Linked DNA regions of Homo sapiens. The protein of the gene in region 1 purifies or fractionates together with the protein of each later gene. This does not show direct contact. Each region holds a gene or a part of one and is shown in the gene's direction. Other genes may lie near its edges.

Region 1 (3,500 bases):
CCACACCCAGCCTAACATTGCCCTTTTAATAACACTCAATGGTTTTTGATTGCACTTAACGTAAAATCCAAAGTTCTTAAATGGTGTATAAGGCCCTTGAGACTCTGCTTCCTGCCATTTCTTGGACCTTATACACCTCTCCCCTTATTTCTTATGCTTCAGACGCTCTTTTTTGTTGTTAAACCAGCCAACCACATTTGTGGCTAAGGTTTTTGCCCTCACTGTTGTCTATGCCTTGGATGCTTTTTGCAGATCTTTGCATGCTAGTTGCATCTTGTCATTCAAGTCTCAGCTCAAATGTCAACTCAGGGCAGCCTTTTCTGACCACCTGATCTAGATCTAAAGTAGTCAATACAACCCCCTTGTTCCTACTTGTTGTTCTCAATCATATCATCCTGTTTATTTTCATCATTATATTTCTACTGTCCAGTATGGTAACCTCTAGGCACATGTGGTTATTGAGCCTGTGAAATGTGGCCAGTGCAACTGAGGAACTGAATTTTTAAAATTCAAGTTAATTTTAATTAATTTAAATTTAAGTAGCCAAAGTGGCTAATGCCTATAATATAGTATGGCACAGTTATAGGTGCTAAAACTCAGGTACATACAGATTGAATACTTGTCCAAGTTACATAGGCAGTTGGGGATATAAATACACCCCAAACATCTAGATTAATTTGCACTATACCTATAGATTTATAAATATGGTTTAATGTATTTCTCTTCTAAATCAAATTCTTGAGTTTATGTATGTTGATATTATTGTGGCTATGATCAGTTCATGTAGAAAATGAACAGAATGGACCTCTTCACCAGTGAGCCCCTTTGTAAAACCTGTACAGATGATCTCAGACTTATGATGGTTTGGCTTCCAATTTTTTAGCTTTACAGTAATGTGAAAGCAATGTGTACTTTGTAGAAACCATACTTCAAATTTTGCACTTTGATCTTTTCCAGAGCTAGTGATACAATGGGTAAGATACTCTTTTGTGATGGTGGGTAGCAGCAGCAAATATGAGAGACTGTACTCTACGGTATTCAAGAAGTACTGTATTCAAGAAATTACATGAGATATTTTCAACCCTTCATGATAAAATAGACTTTGTGTTAGAAGATTTTGCCCAACTATAGGCTAATGTAAGTGTTCTGAGCACTTTTAAGATAGTCTAGGCCAAGCCGTAATATAAAGAGTTTTGAACGTAAACTTTTGTACAGTGAAATTTTACAGAGAAAAAATGACATTAGCAGAGCAGGTAAATAGGACCTGACTTAAACTGCTGATGGTATTTGCCTTTGCTTTTCTTCACTTTATTTATTAATGTTATAAATGTTTATTGGGAAGCAGAAATCATGAGATCATCTTAAATTTTTTTAGCTGATATAGTTGTAATTTCTTAACCTAGCTCATCTCTAGAGGATATGTAAAAACATAAAACACCTCAATTACTTGTGAATTATAGAGGTGTATCAGTTGGTTTAAAAGTGCTTTTATTGGGCTGAGCTCTTGGAAGACTCAGGTCCTTGGGTCATAGGCATCACGGACCAATCTGAAGAAAACTGCATTTCAGGGCCTGTTGAGGCTAAAACTCCAGTTGGAGGTCCAGAACATGTTCTCGTGACTCAGCAATTTCCTTGTCAGAATCCATTACCTGCAAATAGTGGCCAGGCTCAGTGGGTCTTGTGTCCTTCAAATTCTTCGCAGCGTGTTCCTTTGCAAGCACAAAAGCTTGTCTCCAGTCACAAGCCAGTTCAGAATCAGAAGCAGAAGCAATTGCAGGCAACCAGTGTACCTCATCCTGCCTCCAGGCCACTGAATAACACCCAAAACAGCAAGCAGTCCCCGCTGTCGGCACCTGAAAATAATCCTGAGGAGGAACTGGCATCAAAACAGAAAAATGAAGAATCAAAAAGAGGCAATGGGCTTTGGAAGACCTTGAAATTGGTCGCCCTCCGGGTAAAGGAAAGTTTGGTAATGTTTATTTGGCAAGAGAAAAACAAAGCAAGTTTATTCTGGCTCTTAGGGTGTTATTTAAAGCTCAGCTGGAGAAAGCAGGAGTGGAGCATCAACTCAGAAGAGAAGTAGAAATACAGTCCCACCTCCAACATCCTAATATAATCAGACTGTATGGTTATTTCCATGATGCCACCAGAGTCTACCTAATTCTGGAATATACACCACTTGAAACAGTCAATACAGAACTTCAGAAACTTTCAAAGTTTGATGAGCAGAGAACTGCTACTTATATCACAGAATTGGCAAGTGCCCTGTCTTACTGTCATTCAAAAACAGTTATTCATAGAGACATTAAGCCAGAGAACTTACTTCTTGGATCAGCTGGAGAGCTTGAAATTGCAAATTTTGGGTGGTCAGAACATGCTCCATCTTCCAGGAGGACCACTCTCTGTGGCACCCTGGACTACCTGCCCCCCGAAATGATTGAAGGTCGGATGCATGATGAGAAGGTGGATCTCTGGAGCCTTGGAGTTCTTTGCTGTGAATTTTTAGTTGGGAAGCCTCCTTTTGAGGCAAATACATACCAAGAGACCTACAAAAGAATATCACGGGTTGAGAATTCACATTCCCTGACTTTGTAACAGAGGGAGCCAGGGACCTCATTTCAAGACTGTTGAAGCATGTTCCCAGCCAGAGGCCAATGCTCAGAGAAGTACTTGAATACCCCTGGATCACAGCAAATTCATCAAAACCATCAAATTGCCAAAACAAAGAATCAACTAGCAAGTATTCTTAGGAATCGTGCAGGGGGAGAAATCCTTGAGCCAGGGCTGCTGTATAACCTCTCAGGAACATGCTACCAAAATTTATTTTACCATTGACTGCTGCCCTCAATCTAGAACACTAAAAGAAATATTTGTTTTACTGAGCAGGTGTGCCTTAACCTCCCTACTCAGAAAGCTCCACATCAATAAACATGACACTCTGAAGTGAAAGTAGCCACGAGAATTGTGCTACTTATACTGGTTCATAATCTGGAGGCAAGGTTCGACTGCAGCCACCCCATCAGTCTGTGCCAGGCATGGTGTCCTCCCAGGAGGCAAATCCAGAGTCTGGCTATGGGGAAAGTGACCACTTTGTGCTGACTCGATCGGTTAAGGAGCTGTCCAATAACCTTCCAAGTACCTGAGTGAGTGTGTAACTTATTGGGTTGGCCAAGCCTGGTAAAGCTGTTGGACTGAGTACGTGATTCTTTTTAAGTAGGAAAATAAAGATATTTGTACAGAAAAAAAAGTACTTTTATTTTACTGTGGACAGCTGCTAGAGATATAGTGATACCACTCTCTTCTATATTTGAATTATCAAAGTATGACTTTATGTTACTTTGTATATTTAATTACAAAAGAAGACTGTCCTCTGTAGCTTTAAAAGATGCTGAACCCTACCCTTTCCCAATGTTTACATTAATGACAACTGTTAAATTTTGTTTTTATAAAGTAAATACTATCTACTTAAGACATGAAGTCTGGTCTTACTGCTTTGTGGC
Region 2 (3,500 bases), on another chromosome or scaffold:
CTTGGGAAAAGAAAAGATGGATTTTCTGTCCTTAAGCCTCTGGAAAATACCTTTAGCCTTTAGAGAATTGTGAGAGAAACATGTTTGAATATGAACTTGTGAGTTCCTATGGAGAAAAAAGGTCAATGTAAAATCTAGCACCAGGATATATTTATTAGAGATATGAATTGTACTTTCCTACAGGAGAAACTGCAAAAATGGGAAAATGGAAGGGGAGAAGAAAAAGGAAGTGAAGGGAGGTGAAGCTACTTAGTTAATGGTGATTAATTTCAGTACATTATTGAGTTAATTTCAGTAAAGTAGATTTAAATTTTGAGTATGTATTTTATTGGAGGGGATTTTATGTGGAGAAATTTGTTCTGAAGTTGAAAATGTGTTTATGTCTTATGAGCATCTTTTTAGAATAATTTGATTTTCATATTGAAAGCCAAGGGTTTTTTTGTTCTCATTTCTACTCATCCAGTGAGTGTACATTCCTAAGAAATTGTTTTTGTTGCCAAGTTTTTAGTTGATTTGCGCATGGCCTGTTTTTTGTGCCTGAATATAATTTCTTTTTTTTTTTTTTTTTTTTTGAGATGGAGTCTCGCTGTGTCACCCAGGCTGGAGTGCGGTGCTGCAATCTTGGCTCACTGCAACCTCCGCCTCCTGGGTTCAAACAATTCTCCTGTCTCAGCCTCCCGAGTAGCTGGGAATACAGGTTTGTGCCACCACACCCAGCTAATTTTTGTATTTTTAGTAGAGACAGGATTTCACCATGTTGGCCAGGATGGTCTTGGTCTCTTGACCTTGTGATAAGCCCGCCTCGGCCTCCCAAAGTGCTGGGATTACATCCGTGAGCCACCGCGCCTGGCCCCTGAATTATATAACTTTTAGGGAAGCATTTTCTGTTTTTGTTTTTATCAAATAGTTGTCCTCCATCAAAAAGCTGTATCTTTCACATTTTATGAATGCCCTCCCCATATATATATGTGGAATAGTATCACTTGAATTGCATCGTATTGATCTAATTTAGAGTAACTGCTTGATTTATTTGAAAGTTAAGACTACAGTGTGTTCATAATTCATGTCAATTTATGGGGCTTAATTTCTGTCTCATGAGTTAGTGCCATAGAGTCTTTGAATCTCTTCAGAATTTCCATTACCTGGGATCCCATACCTCTTGTCTGGCTGTTCCCATTAATGTGCTTTTTTTGGACCGCAAACATGTCATGTCAGATGGTTAATGGAAAGATGAGATTAAAACACACCACAAGACTCTGTGCATATGGAAATCTGAACTCACGCTATGAATTGGTGATTATTAAAAGCACAAAAAATTATTAATTTAAGAAATGAAAAGTATAAGCGTCCTATTTCAGTATAACTTGCCCTGGTATGTTTAAGTATGAAGTGCATGTGGAGAGTCTCATAAAATTTAAAGATAAATTTTAGGAACCAAAAGCAATTGTACATTAATAAGGATTAATATTAGGCATATCAAAAATTCTGTGAAATTAAAAATTAAAAATTCTGCTTGTTAAACCTCAAATTCCCCTTTCTAAAATAGGATAGGGAAAGGTGGAAAAAACTAATCATGCAAATAGCTTTTAATTATCCTCACCATTTTTAAAAGTAATAGCATACTTTTAAAATACATAATTCACTCATTTAATAGAATGGAATTGTTGGATTACAAATCTGCATTTACCTTTCTGAGGAACTGCCCAAGTACTTTCCAAAGCAACTACACCATTTTACTTTCCCACCAGTAATGTATGACATTACCAGTTTCCCCACATCAACCCAGCACTCGTTCATTATTCATCTTTTTGATTATAGCCACCCTAGTGGGTGTGAAATGGGTGGTTTTGATTTGCATTTCTCTAATAGATAATAATGCTGAGCATCTTTTCATATGCTTATTGGCCATTTGTGTATCTTCTTTGTGGGGAAATACCTATTGAAATATACCTAATGTAAACCTTACCATTTTAACTATTTGAAGTGTACAATTTATTGCCAGTAAGTACACTCACGATGTATGTTACCATCACTATCATCCATCTGCAGAACTTTTCATTTACACAAACTTGAAACATTGTACACATTAAAGAATAAGTCCCTTCACCTTCCTCCCCACAGTTCCAGACGACTCTAAATTGACTATTCTTGATAGCTCATATAAGTGGAATCATACAATAGTCGTTCTTTTTGTGTCTGGCTTATTTCACTTTGCATAATGCCATCAAGCTTAATCCATGTCAGAATTTCTTTCAGATTAAAGACTGGATAATATTCGTGTGTGTGTGTGTGTTTATCTCTCACATTTTGCTTATCCATTCATGTGCTGTTGGCACATTTGGGTTGTTTTCACCTTTTGGGGATCTATGGAGAAATGGGATTCCTGAATCATAGGGTGGTTTCATAATTTTTGTTGTTGTTGTTGTTGTTGTTTTTGGAGCAACCAAACTGCTTTCCACAGTGACTGCATTGTTCCTACCAGCAATGCACAAGAGTTTTGGTTTCTTGGCTGGGGGCAGTGGCTCACGCACTTTGGGAGGCTGAGGTGGGCTGATCACGAGGTCAGGAGTTCGAGACCAGCCTGGCCAACATGGTGAAACCCCGTCTCTACTAAAAATACAAAAAGTTAGCTGGACGTAGTGGTAGGCACCTGTAATCCTAGCTACTTGGGAGGCTGAAGCAGGAGAATTGCTTGAACCCAGGAGGCAGAGGTTGCAGTGAGCCGAGGTTGCACCACCACTCTCCAGCCCTGGCAACGGAGTGACACTGTCTCAGAAAGGAAAGTTTCAGTTTCTCTACATCCTTGGCCAGCCAATACTTGTTCACTTGTTTTTTAGATAATAGCCAACCCTAATGGGTGTAAAGTGGTATTGTGATTTGGATTTACATTTCCCCAAGATTAATGGTGTTAAGCATCTTGTGTGTTTGCTATTTGTATATCTTCTTTGGAGAAGTGCGTATTTAAGTACTTTGCCCATTTTTAAATTGGGTCATCTTTTTTGTTAAGTTGTAGGTGTTCTTTATATAATCTGGATATTAACCCCTTATCAGATAAAAGATTTGCAAATATTTTCTCCCATTTCACGATTTGACTTTCTGCTCTGTTGATAGTGTCCTTTGATGCACAAAATTTTAAATTTTGATGTAATTCAATTTATCAATTTTGTTGCTTGTGCTTTTGGTATCACACAGTATCTTTAAGAGACAGGGTCTTGCTCTGTCGCTCAGGCTGGATTCCAGTGGTGTGATCTTGGCTTACTGCAGCCTCTACCTCCTGGGCTCAAGCAATCCTGTTGCCTCGGCCTCTTGAGTAGCTGGGACTACAGGTGCATACCACCATGCCTAATTTAAATTAATTAGTAATTAATTATTTTGTAGAGACGGAGTATTGCTGTTTGCCCAGGCTGGCTTCCAACTCCTGGGCCCAAGTGATCTTCCTGTCTCGGCTTCCCAAAGTGCTGGGATTACAGGCGTGAGCCACCACACCTGGCCTCGTATAA
Region 3 (3,007 bases), on another chromosome or scaffold:
ATGTTTCTCACATAAAAGATGATGCTTTATCCTCAACATAGATTAAATAGTCAAAGAAAACTATGGTTCAGGGTAGTTTTAAACCTCATAGCACAATGAATAATAATGAATAATAAAATGTCATTACATTCTCATCTTAAAAATTATAGGCTGGGCGTAGTGGCTCACGCCTGTAATCCCACACTTTGGGAAGCCAAGTTGGGAGGATCACTTGAGCCCAGAAGTTCAAGACCAGCCTGGGCAACATGGCAAAACCCCATCTCTACAAAAGATACAAAAATTAGCTGGGTGTGGTGGTGCACAACTATAATTGCAGCTACTTAGGAGGCTGAGGTGGGGGGATCTCTTGAGGCTGTGAGGTCGAGGCTTCAGTGAGCCGTGATTGCACCACTGCACTCCTGCTTGGGCAACAGAGTGAGATACTGTCTCAAAAGAAAGATTATATGGCAAAAATATAAGTATTATCATTTTTATATGAAATAGTTTTAAAATATCATTTTAACATTTCTTCTTTTTCCTTGCCTGATACATTTCCCTCACTTATTCTAATTGTTGGTAATAACAGGTAAAGAGGGAACTGGGGGCAGGAAGGAAAGGAGGTAAAGTGAATGTTCAGAGTTTGAAAATAAAACAAATGAAGCAAATGTCAAAGCAAGAGCTTTTACAGTCCTACAACCTTGGGAGAAAGTTTCCTCACTCTTACAAAGGAAAAAGCAATGGTAAAGGTTGAGGCTGCTGACAAAAGCAGGTTCAGGTGTGCTTTGGTTCAACCCAGTCAACATTTAATGAGCATCTAATATCTGCCAGGCACTAGGGATTCAACAGCAGGAAAGTTTTCAAGAAGCTTGTGATCTAGAACAGATGTCCTGAGCTCCTGTGAAATTGAAATTGGGGGTTATTTGTATATAGGGGTGAGTGGCAGAGAAGGGTGGGAGAAATGGCTTTTTTGTCAACTTCACAAAGGAGGCTTTTGACACTCCCCCGCCAAAAAAAAAAAAAAAAAAGTTACTGTGGGCAGAGCTAAGCCTCTGTGACCCATCATGGATTAGAGAGGGAATCTCTTACTTTTCCCCCCATCTGCAAGAGCTCAACAGGTAAACAGAGGTAATTCAAAACGTTTCTGTCAAGGTCCCAAGTTACTTTAATGTCTTCAGGGCCAGGTTTCCGCTGGGAAGTGGGCCTCATGTTCTCTGATTTCTTATTGCATCCTGGGTGAGGTGGTGGCTGGAGTGCTATGTCTAGCATTGCTGGTTTCCCCATCCCAGGAACATAGAGGCTAGTTTTATATCAGTGTTTAATGTTGAAGTAACAGTGATAATGCTGCAAGAGTTGAAATTTTGTTTTGTTTTATTTGGGGTTTCTTGCCAGATCAGTAGCTGGATATAAATGTTGTACATATTGTTGATTTTGTTGATGTTCAAATGTGTCCTTTCCTACCTGTCTCTGATCATTACTCTTTGTGTGTGATTAGATCCTTTGCTGAAGAATCTATCCCAGGAAATCATAGAATTACTCAAAAAGCTGGTTGGGCTTGAGAGCTTCTCATTAGCCTTTGCCTCTGTACAGAAACAGGCTAATGAGAAAAGGGCACTCCGGAAAAAGAGGAAGGCCCTGGAGGTAAGTTTGCTCTTTGAAAATATGGCATGTTCACTGGACTTGATAACTACTAAGTGTGCATGTTTGTGTCACACTTACACTTAGGGAGGATCAAGGGTTTGAGCGGTTGGGGACTTTATAGCTGGGACTTCAGATTTTCTTTAATGAGCATGTGTTTTTTACATTTATTTCTGTATTTGATTCTTATTGGTTTAACATTTACTTTAAAAGTAATATAAAATTTCTATTCTCTTTTCCAGTTTGTAACTAATCCTGATATTGCTGCCAAGAAAAAAATGAAGAAACACAAAAATAAAAGTGAAGCAAAGAAGAGAAAGATAGAGTTCCTGCGTCCAGGATATAAGGCCAAGAGACAAAAAAGCCATAGCCTGAAAGATTTAGCAATGGTGGAGTAATGTCTCCCTGTGCTGATACAAGCATGAACTTTCTGGAATATTCTGCTAGTCTGAAATTACAGTAGGTTGTCTGGGGTAGGGGGGAGGCGTTTTTTTTTTTTTTTGAGACAAGGTCTCACTCTGTCACCCAAGGTGGAGTGCAGTGACGACATCACAGCTCACTGCAGCCTCAACCTGGGTTCAAGTGATCCTCTCACCTCAGCCTCCCAAGTAGTTGTGCCTCCTAGGCACACAACACTATGCCCGGCAAATTTTTTGTATTTTGTATTTTTTGTAGAAACAGGATTTCGCCATGTTGGCCAGGCTGGTCTCGAACACCTGGGCTCAACTGATCCGCCTGCCTCGGCCTCCCAAAGTGCTGGGATTACAGGTGTGAGCCACCCTGCTCAACCAGGTTTTATTATTTAAGTTAGTTAAACTTTGGATAGATTGTATAATATATAGTTTAATGTAATCATGCTCATATTTTTTAAATAAATAAAACACTATACTACTGCTGGGTCTTCACTGTTTAAAAAGCATGTGACACTAGTCAGAGTTTAAAATATAATTTGTAAATAAAAGGATACATTTTTAAATAGCAAGAAAAAATGTAGAAGTTAGCAATTAATCAAACAAAAGATTTGCAAATACTGCTCTATAGTACTTGCTAAAATTTTAGGAAAAGGCAGTAAGAAAGATCTGCACAAACGGAACTATAACCATGTTCTTGGCTAGGAAGATTCAGGATCATAAAACGCTACTTCTTTTTCCCAAGTTGATCCTTTGGTTAAATGTGTATCTGAGCAAAATCCCAAGAGTTCTTCACGTTAACCCAACAAGCTAATTCTAAAATGTATATGGAAGATGATATTAAGCCAAGAATAACCATGACACTCTCACAAAAGTAGAACAGGATGAGGGGCTTGCCCTATTGGATATCAAAAGTAAGACACAAAAACTATCTATAGAGAGAACGTGTAATAAATCCTACTTCATTAAGAACTTCTGCTTAG
Region 4 (3,500 bases), on another chromosome or scaffold:
CATCTCTACTAAAAATACAAAATTAGCCGGGCATGGTGGCACATGCCTGTAATCCCAGCTACTCGGGAGGCTGAGGCAGGAGAATGACTTGAACCCGGGTGGCAGAGGTTGTGGTGAGCCGAGATCGTGCCACTGCACTCCAGCCTGGCGACAGAGTGAGACTCCATCTCAAAAAAAAAAAAAAAAAGAGAGAGAGAGAGACATAATTGTAAGTTCTGATGCCATTCTTTGTAGTGTCCTGTGGTCCTGAAATGTTACTTGTTGATGCGTCACATCAGAAAATGTGAAATCTATATAAACTTTTTTCACTTAATGATTAATATCCTTCAATAAGATCATGTTATTACCTTAGATATTAAATTGTCCCCATATGTTTCAGCCAGAGTCTGCTAAAAGTTAAAAACATTACATGAGAACTCCTTAACCATTATGAAGGATTCTTTCTACTCTTGAGATTCATAATTCTGTGGGTTGCTATAGTCAGTATTTACCAGCATGTCTCCCATCTCACAATTTGGTACTCTTAGGATTCTTTGGTTCAGAGAATGGGTTCAGATTCCCATTCTGTCACCAGCTGTGCAGGCCTTGGTCAAGTTACTTGGTCAAGTCTCAGTTTACTCATTTATAAAATAGGGAAAATAATACCCACCTCATAAAGATTTTAGTATTAAATGAGATAATATACGTAAAATGTTTAGTATGGTACCATGAGTAGTGTATTAGTATTATAGTCTTTTTGAAAGTTTGCTTGCTTTAAGGGCGTGATGTTTTCACATTAAAGTTGGATATTTAATTGAAAATGTATAAGAATCAATAACTACACTTCTAGATAATAGAAATGCTGCCCGGGTATAGTGGCTTATACCTGTAATCCTAGCACTTTGGAAGGCCGAGGCGGGAGGATGGATCCCTTGAGCCCGGGAGTGTGAGACCAGCCAGGGCAACGTACTGAGACCTTGTCTCTATTTTATTAAAACAGTTTTTTTTTAAATTAAAAAAATAGATAATATAAATGCTAATGTTGTCTTGGCATAGAAATGCTTTTTCTTTTGTTGTTGTTGTTGTTTTTTTTTGTATTTTTGAGACGGAGTCTCCGTCTTTTGCCCAGACTGGAGTGCAGTGGCGCTATCTCGGCTTACTGCAGCCTCCGCCTCCCGGGTTCAAGCGATTCTCTTGCTTCAGCCTCCCGAGTAGCTGGGATTACAGGCACCCTCCACCATGCCTGTTTAATTTTTGTATATTTAGTAGAGACGGGGCTTCCACATGTTGGCCAGGCTGGTCTTGAACTCATGACCTCAAGTGATCTGCCTGCCTTGGCTTCCCAAAGTGCTGGGATTACAGGAGTGAGCCATGGTGCCCAGCCTGCTTTTTCATATATTAAAGGTAATTTGTGTGTGTGTGTGTGTGTGTGTGTGTGTGTGTGTGTGTGTGAGATGGAGTCTCACTCTGTCGCCCATGCTGGAGTGCAGTGGCATGATCTTGGCTCACTGCAACCTCTGCTTTCTGGGTTCAAGCAGTTCTGCCTCAGCCTCCCCAGTAGCTGGGATTACAGGCGCCTGCTACCACGCCCAGCTAATTTTTGTATTTTCAGTAGAGATGGGGTTTCACCATGTTGGCCAGGCTGGACTCAAACTCCTGACTTCAGGTGATCCGCCCACCTTGGCCTCCCAAATTGCTGGGATTACAGGCATGAGCCACCGCACCCAGCCCCTAATGACGATTTTAAAAATAGGCCCAATAGCTTTTTTGTTGTTGTTGTGAGTTTTACCAGTGGGGTTAACTACAGCTATTAGGTGTCACTGTCAAAATAAATGCATAGAACAAGGGAGTGGAGAGCAATGAGGGAGTAAAAGAAAAAGGAGAAGGAAAAAGGTAGTTATGAGAAGGTACAGGCTGTGGCATGTACCTGCAAAAATTAAAGTGTTTCTGTTGGTCTAGGTTGCTTTCTGTGAAATTAACATTTTAATAGAGTACTGAAGTAAAGTATTTTTGTATTTAAAAAATATCAATATTACAAATGCTTTTTTTGGTAACCTAGTTTTAAGTGCTGTAATTTAAAACCTATATTTGAAAATATTTAAGGATACTATTGCTTTTAATAAAAAAAAACGAAGGGCTGGCCGGGCACTGTGGCTCATGCTTGTAATCCTGCACTTTGGGAGGCCAAGTCAGATGGATCACTTGAGGTCAAGAATTCAAGCAGCCTGGCCAATATGGTGAAACCCATCTTTACTAAAAATACAAAAATTAGCTGAGTGTGATGGCACACACTTATAATCTCAGGTACTTGGGAGGCTGAGGTGGGAGGTTCACTTAAACCCGGAAGGTGGAGGTTGCAGTGAGCCGAGATCACACCACTGCACTCCAGCCTAGGCAACAGAGCGAGACTCAAAAAAAAAAAAAAAAAGAAAAACAAAAACACTAAAGCTCAAAAACACAGTGGCTCATACCTGTAATCCCAGCACTTTGGGAGGCCCAGGTGGATGGATCACTTAAACTCAGGATTTCGAGACCAGCCTAGTCAACATGGGGAAATCCCATCTCTACTAAAAATACAATTACCTGGATGTGGTGTTGAGCACCTACTGTTCCAGCTACTTGGGGGGCTGAGGCAGGTGGGTCACTTGAGCCTGCGAGGTCGAGACTTCAGTGAGCTGTGATTGTGCCACTGCACTCCAGCCTGGGCGACAAAGTGAGACCCTGTTTCAAAAAGAAAACATAAAACTAAGAAATTTAGGTAATTTTCTACCTCTAAAATAGAATTTTGATTTTCTTTTTTTTCTTGAGGCGGAGTTTTGTCCTTGTTGCCCAGGCTGGAGTCCAATGGCGTGATCTTGGCTCATTACAACCTCCGCTTCCCGGGTTCAAGCCATTCTCCTGCCTCAGCCTCCCGAGTAGCTGGGATTACAGGCATGCGCCACCATACCCGTCTAATTTTATATTTTTAGTAGAGACGAGATTTCTCCATGTTAGTCAGGTTGGTCTCGAACTCTCGACTTCAGGTAATCTGCCTGCCTTGGCCTTCCAAAGTGCTGAGATTATAGGCATGAGCCACTGTGCTTGGCCGAATTTTGATTTTCTTATATACAACTCTTAGATAATTTAGGAGTTAAAACGTGAAACACCATGCCTAAAAGAAATTAGACAACTAGTTCTGAGTAGAGAAATATATTTTTAGAAAAGAAAAATTCAGAATTTTCCTGCAAAGTATAGTTTTTTGTTCCACAGTTACTTTCAGTTAACTATAAGCCTGTACTATAGGCCAATGCTATCCAATAGAACTTTCTGTGGAAATGTTCTGTATCTGCCCTGCTGTGTATGGAAGCCATTAGTCACATGTGGAATTGAGCACTTGAAATACAGATACTGACTGAAGAACTGAATTTCAAATTTTATTTAATTTTAATTAATTTACATTTAAGTAACCACATATGACTAGTGCAGCAGTTTTTGGGTGATAATTTTTTCTCCGACGGATATTTAGCAATGTCTGGAGTTAT
Region 5 (3,500 bases), on another chromosome or scaffold:
AGGCAAGTAATATCTACTCTTTTATTGGTCTAGGAAAATATAACTAGGTCCGTTTCTACCATGAAAATCTAGGTCAGATTTGTAGATCTTGGGAGTGAGTTTAGAACAGTGCTTGACATATATTAGCTGCTTATCTTTTTATTCCTAACTTCAGATTCCAGTAGAATCTTAATGTGTGGGTGTTTTTTTTTTGCCTGCTGTTTCCATTTAGTGTGATTAAATTGTTTTTCTCATTCAGGCTTCAAAAGCACTTAGAATACAATGCATGTGATACATGTCTGTAAGTGAGATTATATGTACGGGATAGTATGTTCTATATGTACTCTAAGTCTTATATACAGATGCCTTTATCTACAGATGCCTAATTGTATAGTTGCCAATGTGTAATAAGACTAAGGGTTAAGGCTTTAAAAAGATTGTTTTTCATTTAAAAGGGATTTAAAGTACTGAATATTAAGCTCAGTTTTTTCAGTTGTCTGATGGTAGGATAGAAAGTTAAGTTACAAGAATTAAATGTAACTTTTGCATTTAATTAGCTTTTTCCTGTGTCACTTAAAAATTATTTGTATTAAAGTGATCACATATTTCTTTAGAAGCCGTGATGAGAGGAAAAAAGATGATCGTTCTCGCAAAAGAGATTATGATCGAAACCCTCCTCGAAGAGATTCATACAGAGACCGGTACAATAGAAGACGAGGGCGGAGTCGCAGTTATAGCAGGAGTCGAAGTCGAAGTTGGAGTAAAGAGAGGCTTCGTGAGAGGGACAGAGATAGAAGCAGGACTAGAAGCAGAAGCAGAACACGAAGCAGGGGTAAATAATATATTTTGGTTATCTTTTTATGAAAAACTCCATGTTTAAATGTTTTTAAAAATTGCTTAACATTTTGTCAGTGTTGTCTTCATTTTTTTCTATTATGATGTATTCTGTGGTCCAAGAGAATGCTTTTTAAAAATTCCTTTAAAAGTTTTATTCCTTGCAAATTAAAATCACAGTTACCACTACACATTCAACAGGATAGCCACGATGATACAGACTGATTCTATTCCATGTTGGTGAGAAAGTAGATAAGCTGAAACTCTTTGGAAAACATTTTGGCAGTATGTAAAAATATTAAAACTACACTTAGCATATGGGTCCGCTATTCTACTTCTTACTGTTTACCTGGAAGAAATGAAAGTGTATGTCCACACAGGTGTTTGTTCACAAAGGTTCATAGCAGACTTATTTGTAAGAGCCAGATCTAGAAACAGCCTAAATGTCCATCAAGAGGTGAATGTATAAACATGTTGTGGTATATCCATACCATAACATGGATAAAAAGAAAAGAACTATTGATACATGCAACAAAATGGATGAATCTCAGTATAATTATGCTGAGTGAAAGAAGCAGGACAATACATATGTATGTTAAAAAATTTTTTTTCTTAATCTTTGTTTTTGTGACAGAGTATTGCTCTGTCGCCCAGGCTGGAGTGCAGTGGTGCTGTTTCAGCTCATTGCAACCTCCGCCTCCTGAGTTCAAGCGATGATCATGCCTCAGCCTCCCAAGTAGCTGGGATTACAGGCAAGTGCCACCATGCTCGGCTAATTTTTGTATTTTTGGTAGAGTCACGTTGGGGGTTTCACCAGGTTGGCCAGACTGGTCTCGAATTCCTGACCTCAGGTGATCCACCCGCCTCAGCCTCCCAAAGTGCTGGGATTATAGGCCTGAGCCACTGTGCCCAGACTAGTTTTTAAAAATGCAAACTAATCTGTGATGACAGAGAGCAAAGCCAGTCGTTGCCTGAAATGGAGTAAAGGAGGGATGATAGATTACAGATTACAAAGGGGCATGAGGATTCTTTTGGAAGTGATGAATATGTACATCATTTATTTGTGGTATTGGTTTCAGAGGTGTTATATCTTGATTAAAACTTATACAGTTTAAATATGTTCAGTTTATTATATATCAGTTATACTTCAAAACTATTTTTAAAAGTTTAAAAAGTTTTATTTCAGATATATATTTTTGCAAGAGCGTGTCATTCCCAACATGTATAATTTTCTTCTAGTACATGTTATTGAAAGTAAGATGTTGTCGTAAAACACCTAAAACACTTTTCAGTAAAGCACCTTTTCTCAAACTTTTTTTGCTACTCTTAATACTATTTATGGCCTTTGTATAAGCCCTGTATTCTGTTACTCTTTTCTTAGAAATTTTCCCCTGCTGTGATCTAGGTATACAAGGCTTCATGGAATGTTACTTCACTTAACTAATCTCTTTAATTTCTTTTCTGTTTCCTGAGGACCATATGTATAGTCTAGTTAATTTCTTTGTGCATGTTTAATATGAACTCTTTCTGGGTCATCCGTTCTTATCTTAATATAACAGCCATTGTAGTAACTTTAAATGGATGACTACAAAATGTTCATCACAGGAAAAATAACCATACTTTATTGCATGTTTTGTTTTGTGGTCTGTAATTATGCATACCAAGATTGTGATGAAGAAAATATAAAATTCCTTTTTTCTATAAACAAAACTCTAAGGAAAAACATTAAATATGGCAGCATTACCTGGTTTTGTAGTTTGGGTTATATTAAAAAGAAATCGCTTACCTTTTAACATTGTATATTAATTGAATATTTTTTAAAAGAAAATGATTATTATGCAAAATTTAAAATTTTTTTTCTATGTTTATAAAAATATCACTATTTCTTAGATCTGGGACTTTTTTTTTTTTAATACAGTGTAGTTTTATATGTCATTTATCTTTCGTTGCAGAAAGGGATCTGGTAAAACCTAAATATGACCTGGATAGAACAGATCCATTAGAAAATAATTATACTCCAGTCTCTTCGGTACCTAGTATTTCATCTGGCCACTACCCTGTACCTACTTTGAGCAGCACTATTACAGTAATTGCTCCTACTCATCATGGAAACAACACTACCGAAAGTTGGTCTGAATTTCATGAAGACCAAGTGGACCATAACTCTTACGTAAGACCACCCATGCCAAAGAAACGGTGTAGAGACTATGATGGTAAGTCTTTCAGCTGTTTGATAAAGTATTTAATTAATATTTCCAGCTGCCTAAATTCTGTGTTTATGTTGTACATAGTTATTCAAAGACTTACCTCTGAAAAGTGGGAAATTAGCCTTAGTCACTTTTTGAATTCCTCAATATGATTGAAACATTTATTAGTTGCCACTAATTTGATTATCAATTTAAAGGTAGTATTTATTTGCAAGTAAGTCTTAATAAATTGTGGGAGTTTACCAAATGAGTAAATATCTACTGAGTTTTTATCAGGGAATCTGCTACTGAAACATTATTGACAAAACTCATTTCTTTAGAATGAGTGATTATTGGACTGTAAATAGAAATGTATCTAGAAATGTAAATGTCACCTTTGTAAGAATTTTATTAAAGAATTAAAGACTTTTGGCTGGGCGCAGCGGCTCACGCCTGTAATCCCAGCACTTTAGGAGGTTGAGGTGGGTGGATCATGAGGTC
Region 6 (3,500 bases), on another chromosome or scaffold:
CTGGCCTGGTCTGAACTGCCTCAGCCCCCAGTGTCGGGATTGTAGTCATGAGCCACCGTAACCAGCCTTGATGAGATGTAATGTTCCTATTCTGCCTTCTTGAACTTTGCTCAGTCAGTACAAGTATTCTGTTCAAACTGATTAATTAAACCCAGGAACTGAATACATTTAGATAAAACTTGCTACTTGAGACTGGGGCACTGGGTAGATTCGAATGATGCCGTATCTCGTGATGTCTACCCTCTCACTATCCACATTCAGGGATGGAAAGGATTTGGGGAGTGAGGAATGTTTATAGAAGTTCAGCCCAGCTCCCTGCTGTAGAATGTTCTTGTATGAGCAGTCCAGCAGTCAGTAAAGCAACCCTTTTCATTGTTGAACTGCTCTCATTCTTAGAAAGTTCTTGTTTCTGTTGACTTGAAATTTGCTTCCGTGGTTTAATTTTTCCCGCTGTTCCGAATTCTTTCACGTGCCACGCAGGATGTGCCTGTTCACTGAGTTCATAATCTTACTTCTCATGGGCCTTGTACTTAGCCTTCTTCAAGCTGATCATGCCTCAGGTTTTGCCTCCTTCTGTCACCAGGCCTCCTCTTCTGGGCGCCGGCCTCTGGCTCTTCCCTTGGGGTCTGGCCAACACCGCAGGCTTTGGGCCAGCATCAGCTGCTCCCAGGCTCTTAGCTCTTGGGAGTTGCTCCTCCATCCTTTGCCTCCCTGGGCACTGACATTGCACCTGGTCTCAGTCCAGGCTTGGCCAGCCTGACCGGCTCTGTGGGGCCTCCTCTCCCTATAGGATGGCCAGACGCCGCGCCCTCCCACTGTGCTCCAAGGCCCCACCCTGCCTCTCTGGACACTGGATCTGTAGTGTAACGGGAACAGGTCACATGACAGTTTCCTTTCTATAACTTTTTATCTTCTGTAGACTATTGAGATTTAGTAAACATGTCTGTTTGCACATGCTTAAAATGGTTGGAATGTTTTGCCTTGTCTGTGTTTGCAAGCGATGAAAATTAAAGGTGGTAGGGATTATATTGATTTGTTTAATCTTGGACTCGACATCTTCAAAGCTATATTTTTTGGGTGATACTTGAAAATCATACAATGTCTGCCTGTTTATTTATTTATTTATGAGATGGAGTCTCATTCTGTCACCCAGGCCAGAGTGCAGTGGCACGATCTCTGCTGATTACAGCCTCTGCCTCCAGGGTTCAAGCGATTTTCAGCCTCTGCCTCCCGAGTAGCTGGGGTTATAGGCGCCTGCCACCATGCCTGGCTAATTTTTTTATTTTTAGTAGAGACGGGCTTTCGCCATGTTGGTCAGGCTGATCTTGAACTCCTGACCTCAAGTGATTCGCCTGCCTTGGCCTCCCAAAGTGGTGGGATTACAGGCATGAGCCACTGAACCAGGCCAGTTTTTTGTTTTGTTTTGTTTTTTGTTTTTTAAGACTTAACTTTGTTACTCTTTGTTTTGTTTAACATTTCAGGATCATATGCCAAGTAATAGAGGAACATTTGTTAGGTTGGGCTAGGAATGGGGACTGGGGTAAGGCCGACTGTAGTTCTAAGAAGAGGTTCCAGTTTAACACCATTTCTTTAAAGAATTTTACCGTATTTTAATTCAGAGCAAAAGCCACACAGCTGCATATAGGCGTAAGTGAGTCCTTTGAGGAAGTAGGTGACTGAGCTGTAACAAGTCAAGATCATACAGCCGAGGGATTGCAGTGCATGTCTCTTTTCATTCTGAAAGAACTTCTCACTATTTAAAAACTATTTTTAAAGTTACGAAATATTTTGAAATATAGTAAACTTTTTTGGCCTTTTTTTCTTCTTTTGCTTCTTGTCTTCAGTCTGCATATTTTTTTTTTTACCGAAAGCCCACCTCTCTAGTAAGTGTGAAAGGAAGAGAGTGAGAAACTGGTGGTGTGACCTCTACTCTGGAGCCCCGTGTCCCTTCTGAGAAAGATGCCTCTTGTTGTAGAGAGGACACACAGTGGTTCTGCTCAGCTGCACTTGGGCATGGAGAACAAGAACCGATATAGACGAAGGCCTGAATCCGCAGAGGGAGACCCTGGGTTAGGAGGCACTTCTGCAGCCTTCAGAAAATGCAGACAAATTAATTCACTTATTGGACTGCTTTAATAGAATAGTGGCTTGCTCTGTGGATTCACAGAGGATTATTTGAGGTCAATGATTGGAATGTGATTTTAGAAAATATTCTTTCCTTGGAATTCTTTGGTTTTATGCTGTAATGTAGTTTGTTTGTTTGCTTTAAAGGAAAGTTTGTGCTTTCAAGGAAGGTTTTAGGATGAAATGGCCAAAAATCAAAAAACAAAAATGATCATCTTCACTTGAATGCGGGTGCTACATGAGTCTAGCCTTAGATTTGTATTATTCCAAAGTTAGGTAAGTGAGGTCAGCCACAAGATATTATACACTAGACATTTTACATTGATTTAAATTATATGGTTGGAGCTTGAATAGATTTTATAATATTCTTTGGACCAAACCTGCCTATCAGAATCACCTGTGAACAGTTTTTTAAAATAATAGCGACTTTGATCGCACACGTGGAGGTGCAGATCTAGCCAACATACTGTTTTAGGAACAGCTCCTTGTATTGTCTGTGCCATGCGTGTGTGTGCGCCATGCATGCACGTGTGGGGTGTGTTTGTGTGCACTTCTGTGTGTATCTACGCCTGTGTGTGAGTGACCACTTGATCATGCACACACATCCCTTAGAGGCACGGACTTGTGGACTTATCGGTCAGTTAGGAATGTGTTGTGTGCACGTGTGTCTATGTGCGTGTTGCATGCAAGTGTGAGGTGTCTGTGACTACACACATGCCAGTCTCATTATTCCCAGCTTCTCATACTGCAGTTGTTTTTGTTTGGTACAAAGGTGGAAGCTCTGCCAAGGTTTTTTCTTGATGCGAGCCAGGATCGAAGGGCTATGGTGTTTAAAGCTTGCGAGCTGAAGGCCCTTGGAAGGCAGGAACCTCAGATAAATTGTAGTCTGTAAGATTCCTGGTCGTTCTCTGGGGGGAGTCAACAATGATCTGTGCTTCACTCCCAGCGTCTGTTGACCATGCTTGGCTCTCAGGAGGCCGGACCAAGGACAGCGTTTGCACTCCTGGTCTCACCACGCCCAGTGTTGGCTTAGGGAACCTCTTGTGAATGCAGCCATGGACATTTGCTTTTCAGAGAACGAGAGTGAAGGTTTGGGGAATGTTTCTGTCCTTACCTATATTGGCAGTAGGCAGTGTGAGAGGTGGTGGTTCTTGGGTTGTGTTCCCCTTGCCTGGTGTTTTCCTCTGATTTCATACTGCTATAAAGAACTGCCTGAGACTGGATAATTTATGAAGGAAAGAGGTTTAATTGACTCACAGTTCAGCATGGCTGGGGAGGCCTCAGGAAACTTAGCATCATGGCAGAAGTTGAAGGGGAAGCAAGGCACCTTCTTAACAAGGCAGCGGTAAGAAGTGTCGAGTGAAGGGGGAAGAGCC

The links.
Region 2: the proteins of RAB3GAP2 (region 1) and PPP4R2 fractionate together in Homo sapiens (co-fractionation; one large-scale study listed by BioGRID). This does not show direct contact.
Region 3: the proteins of RAB3GAP2 (region 1) and UTP20 fractionate together in Homo sapiens (co-fractionation; one large-scale study listed by BioGRID). This does not show direct contact.
Region 4: the proteins of RAB3GAP2 (region 1) and UPF2 fractionate together in Homo sapiens (co-fractionation; one large-scale study listed by BioGRID). This does not show direct contact.
Region 5: the proteins of RAB3GAP2 (region 1) and RBM26 fractionate together in Homo sapiens (co-fractionation; one large-scale study listed by BioGRID). This does not show direct contact.
Region 6: the proteins of RAB3GAP2 (region 1) and FAM120A fractionate together in Homo sapiens (co-fractionation; one large-scale study listed by BioGRID). This does not show direct contact.

Annotation. Positions count from the first base shown.
Region 1 is NC_000001.11:220,265,954-220,269,453, reverse strand, and holds part of RAB3GAP2 (rab3 GTPase-activating protein non-catalytic subunit), read left to right. Parts: intron 1-1,738; exon of another isoform or gene 1,739-3,275; intron 3,276-3,500. UniProt on the Homo sapiens protein: Regulatory subunit of the Rab3 GTPase-activating (Rab3GAP) complex composed of RAB3GAP1 and RAB3GAP2, which has GTPase-activating protein (GAP) activity towards various Rab3 subfamily members (RAB3A, RAB3B, RAB3C and RAB3D), RAB5A and RAB43, and guanine nucleotide exchange factor (GEF) activity towards RAB18.
Region 2 is NC_000003.12:73,041,811-73,045,310, forward strand, and holds part of PPP4R2 (serine/threonine-protein phosphatase 4 regulatory subunit 2), read left to right. Parts: intron 1-3,500. UniProt on the Homo sapiens protein: Regulatory subunit of serine/threonine-protein phosphatase 4 (PP4). May regulate the activity of PPP4C at centrosomal microtubule organizing centers.
Region 3 is NC_000012.12:101,384,112-101,387,118, forward strand, and holds the end of UTP20 (small subunit processome component 20 homolog), read left to right. Parts: intron 1-1,471; coding exon 1,472-1,617; intron 1,618-1,856; coding exon 1,857-2,012; 3' UTR 2,013-2,507; downstream 2,508-3,007. UniProt on the Homo sapiens protein: Part of the small subunit (SSU) processome, first precursor of the small eukaryotic ribosomal subunit.
Region 4 is NC_000010.11:12,036,310-12,039,809, reverse strand, and holds part of UPF2 (regulator of nonsense transcripts 2), read left to right. Parts: intron 1-3,500. UniProt on the Homo sapiens protein: Involved in nonsense-mediated decay (NMD) of mRNAs containing premature stop codons by associating with the nuclear exon junction complex (EJC).
Region 5 is NC_000013.11:79,368,256-79,371,755, reverse strand, and holds part of RBM26 (RNA-binding protein 26), read left to right. Parts: intron 1-593; coding exon 594-811; intron 812-2,765; coding exon 2,766-3,026; intron 3,027-3,500. UniProt on the Homo sapiens protein: May be involved in the turnover of nuclear polyadenylated (pA+) RNA.
Region 6 is NC_000009.12:93,510,685-93,514,184, forward strand, and holds part of FAM120A (constitutive coactivator of PPAR-gamma-like protein 1), read left to right. Parts: intron 1-3,500. UniProt on the Homo sapiens protein: Component of the oxidative stress-induced survival signaling. May regulate the activation of SRC family protein kinases. May act as a scaffolding protein enabling SRC family protein kinases to phosphorylate and activate PI3-kinase.